Linked DNA regions of Homo sapiens: region 1 is linked to region 2. Evidence: fine-mapped expression QTL. A gene starts in region 2. The other region holds a variant in brackets. All regions are shown on one strand. Distances are between the middles of the regions.

Evidence for each region.
Region 1: its variant is fine-mapped to the expression of KCTD11 in whole blood (TOPMed, PIP 0.93).

Annotation. Positions count from the first base shown.
Region 1 is chr17:7,375,454-7,380,820 of GRCh38, forward strand. It overlaps a transcript of TNK1 not described here. Among named protein-coding and RNA genes, the nearest start is that of TNK1, 3.0 kb to the right of the region's middle. RefSeq lists an enhancer at 5,154-5,367. The variant A/G (reference allele first, on the strand shown) is at 3,195.
Region 2 is chr17:7,350,123-7,355,489 of GRCh38, forward strand. KCTD11 (potassium channel tetramerization domain containing 11) reads left to right here and starts at 2,040. Exons shown (of 1, transcript NM_001363642.1): 1 at 2,040-4,822. The coding sequence starts at 2,704. The coding sequence ends at 3,519. It overlaps ACAP1 (ArfGAP with coiled-coil, ankyrin repeat and PH domains 1), which reads left to right. Exons shown (of 22, transcript NM_014716.4): 20 at 5-115; 21 at 828-877; 22 at 1,173-1,355. The coding sequence ends at 1,273. It overlaps TMEM95 (transmembrane protein 95), which reads left to right and starts at 5,034. Exons shown (of 7, transcript NM_001320436.2): 1 at 5,034-5,251. The coding sequence starts at 5,083. RefSeq lists silencers at 89-228, 1,109-1,168, 1,239-1,298, 1,349-2,118 and enhancers at 4,575-5,101, 5,102-5,367.

The sequences.
Region 1 (5,367 bases), 25 kb after region 2:
CAAAAATTAGCTGGGTATGGTGGCTCGCACCTGTAGTCCCAGCTACTCGGGAGGCTGAGGCAGGAGAATCATTTGAACCCAGGAGATGGAGGTTGCAGTGAGACAAGATGGCACCACTTCACTCCAGCCTGGGCGACAGAGTGAGACTTTGTCTCAAAAAAATTTTTTCTTGGCCAGGCACGGTGGCTGACACCTGCACTTTGGGAGGCCGAGGTGGGTGGATCACCTGAGGTCAGGAGTTCGAGACCAGCCTGGTCAACATGATTAAACCCCGTCTCTACTAAAAATACAAAAAATTAGCTGGGCATGGTGGCACATACCTGTAATTGCAGCTACTCAGGAGGCTGAGGCAGGAGAATCGCTTGAACCCAGGAGGCAGAGGTTGCAGTGAGCCGAGATGGCACCACTGCACTCCAGCCTGGGCAACAAGAGCAAAACTCCGTCTCAAAAAAAACCTTTTTTTATTTTAATAAATAAATGAAATGAAATGGTAAAACCACTTTGGAAAACAGTTTTTTTGGTTTCTTAAAAAATTAAACATACCTGGCCAGGTGCGGTGGCTCACGCCTGTAATCTCAGCACTTTGGGAGGCCGAGGCAGGCGGATTATGAGGTCAGGAGATCGAGACCATCCTGGCTAACATGATGAAACCCCGTCTCTACTAAAAAATACAAAAAAAAATTAGCTGGGCATGGTGGTGGGCACCTGTAGTCCCAGCTACTTGGGAGGCTGAGGCAGGAGAACGGCATGAACCCGGGAGGCTGAGCTTGCAGTGAGCTGAGTTGGCACCACTGCACTCCAGCCTGGGCGACAGAGCGAGACTCTGTCTCAAAAAAAAAAAAAAAAATTAAACATACTAATTTTATGACCCAGACATTCCACTCCTAGGTATTTACCAAAGACAAAGGGAAACATATGTCCACACAAAGACTTAAAGAGAGTGGTCACAGCAGCTTTATTCATAATGGGCGAAAACTAGAAACAACCCAAATGTTTATCAACAGGTGAATGTATAAACAAATTATGATACATCCATACAATGGAATACTACTCGGCACTAAAAGGGGATGAATACTGATGATACATACAATATCATGAATGAATCTCAAAATAGTTATTCTGAGTAAAAGAAGGCAGGCAAAAAAGAATGCATACTGTAGGATTCTATTTACATAAACTTCTAGGAAATGCAAGCTAGTCTAGAGTGACAGAAACAGATCAGTGGTTGTCTGAGGAACGAGGGGCAGAAGAGATTACAAAGGGACATAAGGAAACTTTAGGGGTGGCAATATGTTCATTACTGTGGTTATGGTGATGGTTTCATGAGTGCACACATTTGTCAAAACTTATCAAATCACAAGCTTTAAATATGGGCAGTTTATTGAATGTCAATTATACCTCAATAAAGCTGTAAAAAAAAAACTCCAGTGGATAAAAATAATTCATATATCCATCATTAGGATACTAGATTTGAAAAGTAATATATTTATATAATGAACTACTACTTCATAATAAAAAATAACTACTAATATACACAACAGCATAGATGAATCTCAAAAAGATTATGGTGAGTGAAATAAGCCAAAAACAAAAAAACTGAATAAGCACTCCATTTATAAGATCTAGAGCAGGTAAAGTGATCATTGTTTTTTTTTTTTTTAATCCTTTTTGTGTGTGTGTGGGTGGGGGCGGGGTGAATGGAGTCTTACTCTGTCACCAGGCTGGAGTGCAGTGGTGCAATCTCAGCTCACTGCAGCCTCCGCCTCCTGGATTCAAGTGATTCTCCTGCCTCAGCCTCCCAAGTAGCTGGGATTACAGGCACATGCCACCATGCCCAGCTAATTTTTGTATTTTTAGTAGAGATGGGTTTTTACCATGTTGGCCAAGATGGTCTCGATCTCTTCACCTCATGATCCGCCCGGCCTCCCAAAGTGCTGGGATTACAGGTTGAGCCACCGAGCCCAGCATTTTTTTTTTTTTTTTTTTTTTTTGAGACAAAGCCTCACTCTGTTGCCCAGGCTGGAGTGCAGTGGCATGATCTCGGCTTACTGCAACCTCTGCCTCCCAGGTTGGAGCAATTCTCCTGCCCCAGCCTCCCACGTAGCTGGGATTACAGGCGCCTGCCACCATGCCTGGCTAATTTTTGTATTTTTAGTAGAGACAGGGTTTCACCATGTTGGCCAGGATGGTCTTGAACTCCTGACCTCAGGTGATCCACCTGCCTCGGCCTCCCAAAGTGCTGGGATTATAGGCGTGAGCCACCGCGCCCGGCCAGATCATTGGGTTTTAAAAATCAGAGTAGTAGTTCCTTCTGGGGGATGAAATTGACTAAAAATAGACACAAGGGAACTTTATGGGATGAAAGAAATGTTCTGGATCTTTAGCCACATTAATAGATGTGTACATTTGTTGAAATTCATCATATTATACAGTTAAATGTGTACATGTTACTGACTATAGATTATATCTCAGTAAAATAGTGTAATGAAGTAGAGTAGGGGCCGGGCGCGGTGGCTCATGCCTGGATTCCCAGCACTTTGGGAGGCTGAGACAGGTGGATCACGAGTTCCGGAGTTCAAGACCAGCCTGGACAATATGGTGAAATCCCGTCTCTACTAAAAAAATACAAAAATTAGCCAGGCATAGTGGCAGGCGCCTGTCGTCCCAGCTAATCAGGAGGCTGAGGCAGGCAACTGCTTGAACCCGGGAGGTGGAGGTTGCAGTAAGCCGAGATTGTGCCACTGCACTCCAGCCTGGGCGACAGAGAGACTCTGTCTCAAAAAAAAAAAAAAAGAAAGAAAGAAAGAGAGAGAGAAAGAAAGAGAGAAAGAAAGAAAGAAAGAAAGAAAGAAAGAAAGAAAGAGAAAGAAAGAAAAAGAAAAGTAGAGTAGGGCCAGGCATGATGATGGCCCACGCCTGTAATCCCAGCACTTTGGGAGGCCGAGGTGGGCAGATCACAAGGTCAGGAATTTGAGACCAGCCTGGCCAACATGGTGAAACCCTGTCTCTACTAAAAATACAAAAATTAGCTGGGCGTGGTGGTGCGGCTGTAATCCCAGCTACTCCAGAGGCTGAGGCAGGAGAATCGCTTGAAACCGGAAGGCGGAGGTTGCAGTGAGCCGAGATCGTGCCACTGTACTCCAGCCTGGGCAAAAGAATGAAACTCCGTCTCAAAAAAAAAAAAAAAAGAAAAG[A/G]AAGTAGAGTAATTTTCGGCCGGGCACGGTGGCTCACGCCTGTAATCCCAACACTTTGGGAGGCTGAGGTGGGCGGATCACCTGAGGTCAGGAATTCAAGACCAGCATGATGGCGGGTGCCTGTAATCACAGCTACTTGGGAGGCTGAGGCAGAAGAATCGCTTGAACCTGGGAGGTGGAGGTTGCAGTGAGCCAAGATTGCACCACTGCACTCCAGCCTGGGCTACAGAGCGAGACTTGTCTCAAAAAAAGGAAAAAAAGTAGAGTAATTTTTTTTTTTTCTCTGTCACCCAGGCTGGAGTGCAGTGGCACAATCTCGGCTCACTGCAAGCTCCACCTCCTGGGTTCACGCTATTCTCCTGCCTCAGCCTCCCGAGTAGCTGGGACTACAGGCGCCTGCCACCAGGCCCGGCTAATTTTTTTGTGTGTGTGTATTTTTAGTAGAGACGGGGTTTTCACCGTGTTAGCCAGGATGGTCTCCATCTCCTGACCTCGTGATCCACCCGCCTCAGCCTCCCAAAGTGCTAGGATTACAGGTGTGAGCCACTGTGCCTGGCCAAGTAGAGTAATTTTCATATGAGTATAACAACAACCAAAAAATAAAATTAAAAAACCCTTCCATGTAAGGATTAAACAGCACATCAGATGTAACCAAAGAGAGAATTAGTGAACTGGAAGACAGACTGGAAGAGATTACCTGAATGTATCACCAAGACACAAAGAGATGAAAGATACAGGAGACAGGTTAAAAGACACAGAGTACAGAATGAAAAGGTCTAGAACACTCCTAATCAGAGTTGGCAAAGGAGAGAGCACAGAGGACAGAGGAAAAATAATATCTGGATGGTTTCTGAGAACTTTCCAATATGATAAAATACGATAAAAGATGTGAATTCATACATACAGGAAGTACAACATATTGAGCAGAATAAATAGAATAAATAAACATCTAGATACATTGTGACAAAACTACAAAACACCAATGATATCTTAAAAGCAGGGAGTAAAAAGAGATCATCTACACAACAATGAGGATTAGACTGAGGAGACTTCTTTACAACCAACATGTATCAGGCCTATTATATGCCCACACTGTCCTAGGTACTTAGAACACAAGTATGAACAAGCCAGGCCCAGCCCCTACCCTGTGGAGCTACAGAACCTCTAACAGGGATCGCAGATGTGCAGTAACAATTATAGTGTGATGAGCGATCCTGGTTGGAGGGCAAAAGAATCGGCAAGAAAACAATACCATAGAACAGCATTATGAAGATTTTCCTATCCCACGTAGGATCCACACAGGGACTGGCCCCCAAGCACAGATCCTTGCTGGCAGCCTGAGAGTCACTCGGTCTAACTTGGTTTCAAGGCAACTCCACCAGCCTTTATTAAATAAGGCTCTGGGTCTCTGGGTACTGGCTGCCTGCTCACACTTTCCCTTACAGACATCTGGACCCCTCCCTTACCCCACATTATAAGCAAGGAGGAAGAAGAGGACCCGAGGCTGGGAAACGTGGAGGTGGCAGTTGGGATCAAACATCCTACATGTTTACCAAGACCAGGAGGGCTTTTCCCTCCAAGGGACCCTTGGGACAGCAGCTGCTATGTTCACGCGTCCTTCCTTGGGACAGGGGACAGACTAGATGTCCTAAGACTGGCAGCTTCCTCTCTGGGACCCCTGAGAGAAGCGGAGACAAATGGTCCTCCTCAGGGCCTTCTTCAAGGTCCTGGACTTAGTCCCAGTGGCCACAGGCTAGGTAGCAGTGTGCAGGGCCCTGAGTTCTGCAGAGCTTGCATGGAGAGCAGGCGTTACGCTGGAAGGAAGCCCAGGAGTGTCAGTAATGGGGAAGCGTGCCCTGAGGCATGGAATGCTGCCGGTGATCAACAACAGCTTCAACTGTAGACTCTGTCTAGGCCAGGGCCAACTCTCCGTACCAGCATCAACATCTCTCTGCCCTGGCCCCATTCCAGGGTTCATTAAGTAAAGCCTGCTAGGAAGCTCTGAACCCCCTGCCATGGGGCAGGAACTGTGTCCTATTTAGCCTTATATTCCCTGTGCGTGGACAGGATAGCTCTATCGGGCGCTTATTCATGTAAGAGGTAGGGTCCTGGCTGAGAGGTGAAGGATTTGGCGAGAGGGCATGGGGGACAGAGACAGAGGAGTGAAGTCTGG
Region 2 (5,367 bases):
CCAGGCTCGCCTGCCTGTTCCTGAAACGGGGAGCTGATCTGGGGGCTCGAGACTCTGAAGGCAGGGACCCTCTGACCATCGCCATGGAAACAGCCAACGCTGACATCGTCACCCTGTAAGAATGCCTGAAGGGGCGGGGCTGGCGCTGGGACTCCCCCCACCCCCGCCCACCCACGTTCGGGCGGGCGGGCGGGGCTGACGCCGAAACAGAAGCCTGTGCTGTGGGGCCTCGGAAAGGGGCTGGGCCAGCGCCGGGGCCAGGCTCGAGAAAGGCTGCGCGAAGTGTGCACTGGGACGTGGAGTAGAAGGCAGGCGGGAGGGCGGGCAGGGTGCAAGGATGCTTGGCCCACCCTGAGAGGCGTAATTCGCCCATCAACATTGCTGTCAGGCATCTTTTTAGCACTAGACGTGACCCCGGGGGTGGGGGCAGATGAACGGAACGCAACCCAGCTCAAAGGATGGGAAGTTGTGGGGGAGGTGAGGATAGTCTTTTTTTTTTTTTTTGAGACGGAGTCTCACTCTGTCGCCCAGGCTAGAGTGCAGGGGCGCGATCTCGGCTCACTGCAACCCCCGCCTCCCGGGTTCAAGCGATTCTCCTGTCTCAGCCTCCCCTGAGTAGCTGGGACTACAGGCGTGCGCCACCACCCCCGGCTAATTTTTTGTATTTTTAGTAGAGACGGGGTTTCACCATGTTGGCCAGGACGGTCTCGATCTCCTGACCTCGTGATCCGCCTGCCTCGGCCTCCCAAAGTGTTGGGATTACAGGCGTGAGCCACCGCGCCCGGCCAAAGATAGTGTCGTTCATTTCTTAATTCCCTCCTCTTCAGGCTACGACTGGCAAAGATGAGGGAGGCTGAAGCGGCCCAGGGGCAGGCAGGTAAAGAATACACCCACCCCACCCCCCAGGCCCAACACCTGAACTCTGGGCTTCTGGTCCACGGTGACCTCTCTCCCTAGTGCCCAGCTGCATTCATTCCGTTATTTAACAAATGCGTATTGGGCGCATGCGACGTGCCAGGCCCTGGCAAGGCATAGGTGCTGGCGCAGTGCCCGCGGCGCGCACGTTCCCACCCAGGCTCGGAGCGCGAGGTCCCCAGGTGGGCCCCAACCGCCGGATCCTGCCCTTCTGCACTGGGGCCCAGCCGCCTCCCGGCCTTTCCTCCCTCCCCCAGGAGATGAGACGTATCTTGACATCTTCCGCGACTTCTCCCTCATGGCGTCAGACGACCCGGAGAAGCTGAGCCGTCGCAGTCATGACCTCCACACGCTGTGACCCGAGGCCCACGGGGCCCGCGCCTGCCTCCCTTCCCCGCCACCGGGCCCTCTGCCATTAAAGCCTCCGTGCTTCGCTCTTCCCTTCTGGTTCACTTCTTGGGCGCCACCTTCGGGCCCGTAGGGTGTTGGGCGCTGCGGCTCCCGAGGTGCGGGGAGCAGCTGGGGGTTTGCGAGCTCCAGTCCAGCAAGGTGCGACTCCGGGGAGCGAGGCGGCAGCTTCGGCCGCGGCCTGAGCGCAGGGCGCTGCGGGGCGGGGGCTCTCGGGCTGGGGCGACGTGGCCAGCCCAGTCCTGCCGAGGGGTGGGGCTGGCCCTGGGGCTCGCTGGCCCCGCGCCGCCGCGGAGAGAGCGCGCCCGGGCCACCCCGGCTGGAAGGCATCCCCGGAATGCGGCGGCTCAGCACCCGCCCCCTCGGGAATTCCCCGGGGGAGCCGCTGGGAGGGACTCGGCTCCCGGGCTGGGCCGGCCGGGCCTCGGGCTCTGAGCGGTGGGATTAGAGGCTCCAGCCCCGCCGACTTGCAGACGTGAGATCGGGCACACCTGAGCGGCGGCGGGGCGGTCGTGGCCACATCCGGGGCGACGTGCCTGAGTCACCCCGTCCCGCCAGCGTCTGCCAGTCCAGCCAGTCCGCCCAGTCTCTCGCGTCCGAGACTCGCCTCCAGCCTCCCACCTCCGCCCGGGCCGCGCGAGCCTCGCGGGGGCGGGGGCGGGGCGCCAAGGGGCGGGGCTGTCTCTTAAAGGGCCCCGGGCCGCTGCCCTTAGGCCACTTCCTGGGGGCGGAGAGGACCTCAGCGGCTGCGGCGACACCCAGGGAAGGCGGCGCGGCCGGGTCCCGAAACTCCTGGCTGTTTCCATCAGAGCCCTCGGACACTCCCAGCCCGGGCTGAGCACGCATCGTCGCTCCCCGGCGGATACAAGGGGGCTCCGCCATCCGCTCCCGTCAGTTCGGCCTCCATCTCCTGGGACCCGCGCCGGCAGCCAGGCCAGGCCTCTGAGTGGCCCCAGAGCCCTGGCTGGACTCGTCCACGGCGGCAGCGATCTGCCCGGGGTCTCGGAGGCCATCCCTTCAGAGTCGGCCCTGTGCTCGCCACCGTCACCTGCTGGTTGGATTCCGGAAACCCACTGTCTGAAGACCACAGAGGGGTGTCGCTGACCACCCCAAATCGGATACGTCCAGACCTCAAGCTCCCTTCCCCTCTCTGGCTGCCCTCTGCTCTTTTCATCTCTTCTCTCAACCTTTTGGGGATTTCTGTGTCCTGACACCACCTCCCCATCCACCACCAAAGTAGCCGGGGTGAGCCCCAAACCTTACTGGGTGTGCTCCACCTGTGCCTCCAACCCAGCGAATCTGACAGCTTCGACCCAATTCTGCACACACCCAGGAAGTTCTGCCTTTTCTTTTCTTTCGGTGTCTCCTGTACTTCCCAAAATTTCTCCTCCTCCTGTGCCCTCTTCGCCCCCCTCCTTTGGGGGCCCCGTGACCCTGAATGTGGGGGGCACACTATATTCCACCACTTTGGAGACCCTGACCCGCTTCCCAGACTCTATGCTGGGGGCCATGTTTAGGGCCGGCACCCCCATGCCCCCCAACCTCAATTCCCAAGGAGGCGGCCACTACTTCATCGACCGGGATGGCAAGGCCTTCCGGCACATCCTCAATTTCCTGAGGCTGGGCCGCCTGGACCTGCCCCGTGGGTACGGAGAGACAGCGCTGCTCAGGGCAGAGGCTGACTTCTACCAGATCCGGCCCCTCCTGGACGCGCTGCGGGAACTGGAGGCCTCTCAGGGGACCCCTGCACCCACAGCTGCCCTGCTCCACGCAGATGTAGATGTCAGCCCCCGCCTGGTGCACTTCTCTGCTCGCCGGGGACCCCATCACTATGAGCTGAGCTCCGTCCAGGTGGACACCTTCCGAGCCAACCTTTTCTGCACCGACTCTGAGTGTCTAGGTGCTTTGCGGGCCCGATTTGGTGTGGCCAGTGGGGATAGGGCAGAGGGGAGCCCACATTTTCATCTGGAGTGGGCCCCCCGCCCCGTGGAACTCCCCGAGGTGGAGTATGGGAGACTGGGGCTGCAGCCGCTGTGGACTGGGGGGCCAGGAGAGCGGCGGGAGGTGGTGGGCACCCCAAGCTTCCTGGAGGAGGTGCTGCGGGTGGCTCTCGAGCACGGCTTCCGACTAGACTCTGTCTTCCCCGACCCCGAAGACCTGCTCAACTCCAGGTCTCTGCGCTTTGTCCGGCACTGAGGATGCTGTTCTCAGTTTGACTGTGGGGAGGAGAGAGAATGGGGTACTAGCACCCCTGAAGCCTCTTTCCAGCTCTGCTTCAGGAGCTATGAGAGTCGGGACTCTCCTGCACCTGACTGGAGCTCAGATGTGGGCAGGAATTCCCAAACCTGAGCCCACCAAGGACTCACAAGTGGTCCAGAAGGTCTCAACCTGTGCTGACCCTGGGAGGGGTAGGGAAGGTTCTCTCAGCTTGTTCTTGCCTAAGGCTGAGCACCTCCAGTCTCTCCTTGATTTGGAGCTCAGTGTTTAAGGGCTTGGAAAAGGGGGGAACATCTCTTTACCCAGACTAGACCTAGCAAAACCCTGGAAGGATATTGAGGTCTGGGGAAAAGGGAGGACTTTGCATTTTCCCAATGCGGTCTCTTGGACCATGGCTTCTACTCCTGAAGCTGGGTGGCCTGGCCTGGCCTGACCAATGAGAGGCCAGAACACTCTGGAACATCGGAAGAGGAGTTCTTTGCTATGTTCCAAGCCATCTACTGAGGGAGGCAGAAAGGCCACAACCCACCCTAGGTTGATGTATGGGAGCTAGGACAGTCCCCATGGCAATGGGGCTGGAGCATCCCTCATCTGGAAGAATCCCATACTGATGGCAGGGCTGGCCAGGGGGAAGAGGGTAGTATCTGTGGGTCCTGGCCTTTCTTCATGTGTGCGTGCATATCAGCCCGTGTGGCTGACTGATGTATAGGTCCCTGGCATCCTGGTTCATATCTGTGTTGCTGACTACAGTGTCTGTGATGTCCGCATGTCCAGGCCTGTTTGGGGTTGCCTAGCGACTCTTCTGGCACAGGGTGTGTCTGTGGTATACCTGTGAGGTGGTTGACAATTAGTAGTTTAATCACAGGGTGTGTGTGTGTGTGTGTGTGTGTGTGTTTATGTGCACGCATGTATATGCATCACCACGTAGCCAGGAGGGGCCTGTTGGGGTTTGAGTCACTGGGATCTTCCTGGTGAGAGGTAAGAGAAGTCACTGGGCTTAGCTGGGCCTCTGAGGCCTGTATGGAACTCTTGGTTGCTGAGGCAACCATGGACCTGTTGCTAGGAGATAGCTGGGGAAGGCCCAAGGCCGCCCAGGGCAGAGAGAGGAGACGAAGAGTTTGGGACAGTGGGGGAGGAGATGGGAAGGGATGGGATTTCTGGGTCCCAGAGCGGGTGGGATACTCACGCACAGCTTCTTCACTGGTGGGGGGTGGGGCACACATTATTTCTCACTGGTCATGATTTACAAGAAGAAAAATAAAACTGCTTTTGGAACCACAAACTTGTGAAGGCTGTTGAGGGCCAGGTTGGGGGTGCTGTCCCCTCACAACAGAAGCCCTGCTTTCTCTGCCCATCGCCTGCTGGAGATGCCTTCTGGACCCCAGTTCCTTGAGCCCCAGCTTTACCCCAGCTGAGGATGGGCAGTGCCATTGTTCATTGTTCTGGAACATTCTAGAACCTCCAGGCAAGGGCTGGAGCCAGGGCTGCAGAGCATTCCTCGGCTCAGCTGGGGCAGCGCCGCCCCATCCCCCAGTGGTCCTCATGTGGAGGCTGGCACTAGGCGGGGTTTTCCTGGCAGCCGCCCAGGCTTGTGTCTTCTGTCGCCTCCCAGCCCACGACTTGTCAGGCCGCCTGGCTCGGCTCTGCAGCCAGATGGAGGCCAGGCAGAAGGAATGTGGGGCCTCCCCAGACTTCTCGGCCTTTGCCTTAGGTAGGACCAGACATCCAGGGATGGGCCCAGCAAGCACTCACCCCCCTACCCCCAGAGGGTGGCATGTGACCTTCCAGCTGTGCCCTCCATCTGTGGCCCTTTCTGGACATGCTGGC